2 separate regions of the Homo sapiens genome follow, and region 1 is linked to region 2. Evidence: fine-mapped QTL for protein levels in blood plasma. A gene starts in region 2. The other region holds a variant in brackets. All regions are shown on one strand. Distances are between the middles of the regions.

Region 1 (2,916 bases), 91 kb after region 2:
TAACCTGATTTTACTCTCTTTTTATTTATTCCATACAGAGAATTAGACCTTCTTCTTGCATAGTTTCCAACAGCTTTCCCACTTAGATGTTTAGTCCCCTCTTTAGATTAGGAGCTCACATTCACCTTCTCCTAATAGTATGGGTCCCTGCTACCCCACTAACTTTTGCCATTACTTTGTTTTTAAAATTGGTGCTTTTTCCCCATCCTGGGTCTTCTGATAAGAAATTAACACTTTGAACTGCATCTGCCTGACTCCTGAGTTTTTGTATCAGCTACATTTGCTACTGCTGTGTTCCATAATCAACAAGGCTAATGATGAAAATTCCTCCTGAGCATGCTACATCCCATTGACTGCACTGGTATCAGCCTTGATGGTTAGAAAAGCTGCCTAGTACTGCCACACACTGCCCAGGATTGTCTGTTTTAGCCTCTATGTCACCCTTTGCAATGAAGATTAGGTATGCTTCCACCCTGAGCCCTTGTAAGTCATTTAGTAGGGAATTATGGCCTGTTTGTAGCCTATTTAGGCATTTCTATTGTTCAACAAGACTTAGGTCTACAGAAACCCTCAAAAAGCAAGCCTTTTCCTAAGATCTGTCTCTATGTTGGGCTCCAGCATATTCACAGTGAGGATCCTGTATGCACACTTGCCTGGGAAGCCACTTGGTCCCTTGCAGACTCATAACTATACTGCTCCACCTCTGTAATTACTGGGTTTACTTGGAAAGGGTTGTATCAGCTGAGGTGCCAGGATCAGAAATAATATAAATATTTTAAGTTTTTATGCAGAGAGTCCTAGACTCAGAGGTAGGAGGCTTCAGTTCTAGCCACAACTCCCTTTACCCTTGAGCGAGACAGGTAGCTTTTCTGGATTTGCGTAAGAATGGCCCTATCTCAAAGCCCTGTTGAGGAGTCTCTGGGATATCTGCTACATATCTGGTTTATGAATTTTATTCTTCCTGCTAGGCCTGTGGACTCACATTTTGGCACTCTTTAGACAATATTCAGCTCACAGCCATATTTTATTTGGTATGCACTGTGTTTTGCTTTGTATTACATTTGAATGCCTTATTTAGGTCTGCCTCTCTGCATCCTCATGGTTTCTTCTGCTCTGTTTTCTCTCTCACTTGGCTCAACTCACCCTCGCTTGGTCCCAAAGACATTTGAATTTTTGGCTTCAGGTCCAATGTGTGTAGACGTTGCTCCTCTGGGTTTACGAAAATAAAAATAACTACCCCAGGCTCATTTTCTAAATGCAAACGAGTTTATTTGGGAAAAAAATGATTTACTCTGAGATCAAAGTACTATGTCTCCGTAGTAATGGTTAAAATCTGGCACTTCCTACAGGTTCTGTTTGAT[G/A]CCATCTGTTTTATCATGAACAAACCACAGTACAGTTCAGTTCAGCTCAGCTCTGCTCCTCTGAAATGCCACCAAGGCCCCAGATGCCCATTTTTGGGATGTGGTCAGCAAGAGGAGTGTTGAGATTTTACCTCATTGCATTGTACCTGCGCTTCCGAAGCAGGCTGCAGCCACTTCCAGTTTATGCTCTGTTACTGATCCATGATTCAAAAAACCCTGCTGTTTCTGCTGCAGGGTCTCCCTACTTGCCTGGAGCTGTGGAATGCACCATGAACCAGGAACAGCATGGGGCAGAGCCCTCAGAGGACCACAGCTATTGTGATTGTCAGCCTCTAAGAGGACCCTACTCATCCTCACCTCCTGGTACTGACACCCATGTGTGAACCTTTCCCTTTAAGTATGGGCTGGATTCAGTAACTCACTTCTAACCAATAGTGTACAGCAGAGTGATGGAATGTCACTTCCAAGATTAGGTTATAAAAGAACATAGGGACCTCTTTTGCTTTCTCTCTCATTTGGAGTCCTCACTCTCGGGGAAGCCAGCCGTCATGTTGTGATCAATCTTATTCAGAGGCCCACATGGTAAAGAACCGATGAAGACCTGAGGTCTGCCTATAGTCCTACCAACAACCACATGAGTCAGCTTTGAACTGGGTCCTCCCCAACTTGGGCCTGGACATGACTGCAGCCCTGGCTGACACCCTGGTGGCAGTCTGTAAGAGACACTGAGCCAGTGGACCCACCTAAGCCATGACCTGCTTTCTGATCCACAGAAATAAAATTTGTTGTTTGAGACTATTGAGTTTGAGGATAATTTGTTATACAGCAATATATACTAAACCGCCACTGATTGCGGCGTACACCAGAAATATGGAAAATATGATGGAAGTGGTCTGGGGCAGGAATAATACACAGTCTCAGCTCTCAGTTGGTCAGCTGTCAGAGGCCAGAGAATAGATATCAAGAATTCAACACAGATCAAACACACCAGAAAGGGGCTCTGCACAGGTGGAGATCAGATCTTTACATTCTTCTCTACCCAGACTGACCCTTTACACCTTATCTTTATGCCTGAAATGCATTCAGCTTATCAGCTCTGCAAGAATATAGAGGTAAAAATGGGAACATCTTGAGGGATAAAGAGTGTGTTTACAAAAAAGACTGCTTGACTTCTGATCAAGTTTGAAACAGTCCCTCAAGTTAAAAGAGCATGTTTGGAAGAGATTTTTTTTTTTCATACAGTAGGTATAGTTTCTCTGTAATAAAATATTTCATTTATTTTGTTAATTTGTTTAATAATTTTATGCTTGGATCTTTTTCCCATTCAGAGATTGGTAAAATCTTCACCTCTGGTTTTGTGGTTTTTCTATATGGTTTTAACTTTTAATATTAAAATTGTTGATATAACTAGAATTATTTTTAATGTACAATGTATAGGTATAACTTGATTTAGGTATAACTTGATTTTTCCCTTCACTTAGCCAATTTCCCAGGACCATTTCCTGAGTAATTCGAGCTTCATTTGTAAGTTTTTTTAATCATACACAGTCATATA
Region 2 (2,916 bases):
ACCTTGAGAGGTAACAGAGAGGGGAGGATATACTGGCACCTGTGTGGGGTCATGGAGCCCAATCCAGACGTATGAGTAGCTGTTACCAATGCTCTTCACCAGGGAGGACACGAAGGATCCCTCAGCCCCACTGAGCACAGACACCAGGTTTCCAGAGGGCCGCTTCTGGCAGGCCAGCTTTGAGGGCAACAAAGAGAATGAGAGGGAGCCTGAGACCTGCTGAGGGAGGGCAGGGCAAAGGTAGGTGGGAGGAGGACTGTGTGAAAGATAAACGTGTTCATCCTCATTCCCAAGGAACTCTCCTGAATGGAGACCCTCCTCCCCCTGAGACCGGTCACCTCCAACACCACATCTAACCACTCACATCTGCATCTGTCCAGGATTTTGGTGACAAAAACAAGGCATAGCAGTGGGAGCCATAGGCCTTGGAGCCTTTGGGACAGCGGATCCGTGCAGAGGGCAGTTCCCTCTGGGGTTCTTCACCTGAGGTGGAAGAAGAGGGGGGAGGGTAAAATGAAGAGTGGGGCTTGGGGTGGGAGATGACCTTGGGGAATACCTAGGAATGTCCTTGGGGAGGAAGACCACATTCCTGACACCCCTTCATCTTCCCTTATGTTTTCAGAAATTCTTTATCTCAAAATAGCCGTAGTAAATGGAGCACCATCCAGTCTCTTATTACCCTTTCCCCTTATTCAACCATTCAATACTCTCCTCACTCTGGGCTGTCTCTACATTGGGTCCTCCAATCATTGTCCCTCCCCACATCTCATTACTGACCCTCCAGTGTATATTAGAGTCCACTTTCCCACCAGTGTATATTAGAGTCCACTGACTAAATGGAAGCCATCTCATTCCACTGTTAGTGGACCACCATGGAGCCTCCCACTGCAAGTTAACCTGAAGGAAGGAGAGATGATGCAAGAACTGCAGGCAGGTTCATTAGACACCACGTCATTACCTCACATGACACACAGGAGCCTTCCTCCTCTTGTTAGCTCTGAGGATTCATAGGGAACCCAGTGCTAGAGGCAAAGCAATCTCACCTTGAACCTGAGACAGCAGCATGAGGCAGGAAAGCAGCATCCAAGATACACTGGGCAGGGCCATGGGAGGCAGCATAGTGTCTGCGACTTGAGGAGGCAATCAGGAGTCACTAAAGAAAGCGTGGTCAGTGGGAGAACACACAGATACCCCACTGCCTCATGTCATTTTCCTTCTCTAGTCCCCTAGGACTAAAGTGATCTTGGTCACATCCATCATCTTCTACAGTTCTGAATGAGTTGTGAATCTGTGTACTCTCCCATCCCCGAGCCCTCCCAGGACACCCTTGCTGAGTCTCAGAGTTCCTGTGCTCCCTGAGGAAGGGACCCTCCCATGTATTCTCCTGTGTCATGTGCAGTAGCTCCTCCCTGGGTCTCATCTTCTCTCAGCTCCCACTTACCTCTCTGGTGGGATATGGTATGGTTTGTCTGGTCAGGAAAGAGTGGGATTTTATAAGAGGATCTGGGGGAGGGACATTGGAGTGAAGAGTGACAATGAGTAGGCAGGACAGGGGTCATGGGGTGGGGTTGGCATGGACTCTTCCTGGCAAAGACTGGGGATTTTCCCAGATGTTGCCTCTTTCCTGTTGGCAGGCCAACACTTTCCCTAGGAAGAGGTGAAGTTTGCTTTTTCCTCTGCATCCTCCTTGTCAAAGGCCTGTGGCACCAAATGTGATATGAAATCTTCTAATGTGGACATCTGAAAGAGGAGTTCCTCTGGTGGGTTTCTTAAGAACCCACTTCTGGAGGCAAACCTATGTATTTCTTATTACCTTGCCTAGTAAGATTAAATAAATGTTAGGTGTTAAGTGAAGATTTACGGGAATTATAAGTATCATGGACAGTTGAGGACATAGATGGTACTGAAGCTAAGAGTAGGAGTGAGGGTTCAGGGCCATTATGCAAGCATGATAGCTAATTTTGATGAAACTTCAGAATTGTCTGACAAGTCAATACATGAGCCACAATCTTACAGAAAATCAGGTGAATGGACTTGTCTTTCCAGTCTTCAGCAAGAAAGAGCTTCCCCAGTGGAGAATGACAATGGCAATGTGATAGAATAAGAGGTAATGAAGGAAAACAAGACATAAGAAGGACTACAGTCAAATAATGAGGATCAAAGAAGAATGAATAATAGTTAAAGAAGGGAAGAGCAGCCATTGTGTAAAATCATAGGTCAGTTGGCCAGGTGCTGTGGCTCAGGTCTATAATCCCAGCACTTTGAGAGGCTGAGGTGGGAGGATCACCTGAAGCAAGGAGTTCAAGAGCAGCCTGGGCAACACATTAAGACCCTATCTCTACAATTTATATTTTAATTTAAGCCAGTTGCGGTGGTGTGTGCTTGTGGTCCTAGCTACTCAGCAGGCTGAGGTAGGAGGACCTTCAGTTGAACCCAGGAGTTCAAGGCTGCAGTAAGTTATGATCATCCCACTGCACTCCAGCTTAGGCAACAGAGTGAGAGCCTATCTCTAAATTTTTGTTTTGTGATGTTGTAAACATAATTCTGAATTGCATGTAAGTCTCTATTACATCAAAATGCTCACTACTTGTAGGTTGCTCATGAGCTTCCTTGCTGGACTGCCATTTGGCTGTACATTAAAAGCCCTTTTCATTGCATTCTTACTGGGCAAATGGTCAGCTTCATATGGGTATACTGGGAGAAGTTCTTTTAGTCATGTTTATTTTTGAGTTAGCAGTTTGGTGCCTCTGACAAGCATACTACATTGCCCATACACTGGTTCAGGTTCAGTTTGGCCAGTCCAGGAAAAAGTTAGGCTGGGAATTTCTACAGACCCTGACTCTCATGCTATTGTTGTAATATGCCAACTTGTATGCAGATGTTTATAGTAGGGGTCTGTGACGAGGTCATGAGATG

Which allele goes with the higher level. Alleles are on the strand shown, and positions count from the first base shown. The strength of an association depends on the size of the effect and on how common the allele is.
For the plasma level of the protein whose gene starts at base 1,467 in region 2, G is the low allele of the variant in region 1 and A is the other (weak association).

The links. A credible set is the group of variants that fine-mapping cannot tell apart. PIP is the chance, under the fine-mapping model, that this variant and not a neighbour inherited with it causes the effect. Protein levels are from antibody-based Olink assays in UK Biobank. Linkage for the fine-mapping came from a reference panel and not from the study's own genotypes, which makes the PIPs less certain.
Region 1: its variant is the best candidate, but not a certain one, in a credible set for the plasma level of the REG3A protein (UK Biobank, PIP 0.86).

What each region holds. Positions count from the first base shown.
Region 1 is chr2:79,249,708-79,252,623 of GRCh38, forward strand. It overlaps a transcript of CTNNA2 not described here. Among named protein-coding and RNA genes, the nearest start is that of REG3A, 91 kb to the left of the region's middle. The variant G/A (reference allele first, on the strand shown) is at 1,362.
Region 2 is chr2:79,158,287-79,161,202 of GRCh38, forward strand. REG3A (regenerating family member 3 alpha) reads right to left here and starts at 1,467. Exons shown (of 6, transcript NM_002580.3): 1 at 1,442-1,467; 2 at 1,044-1,153; 3 at 365-483; 4 at 40-177. The coding sequence starts at 1,119.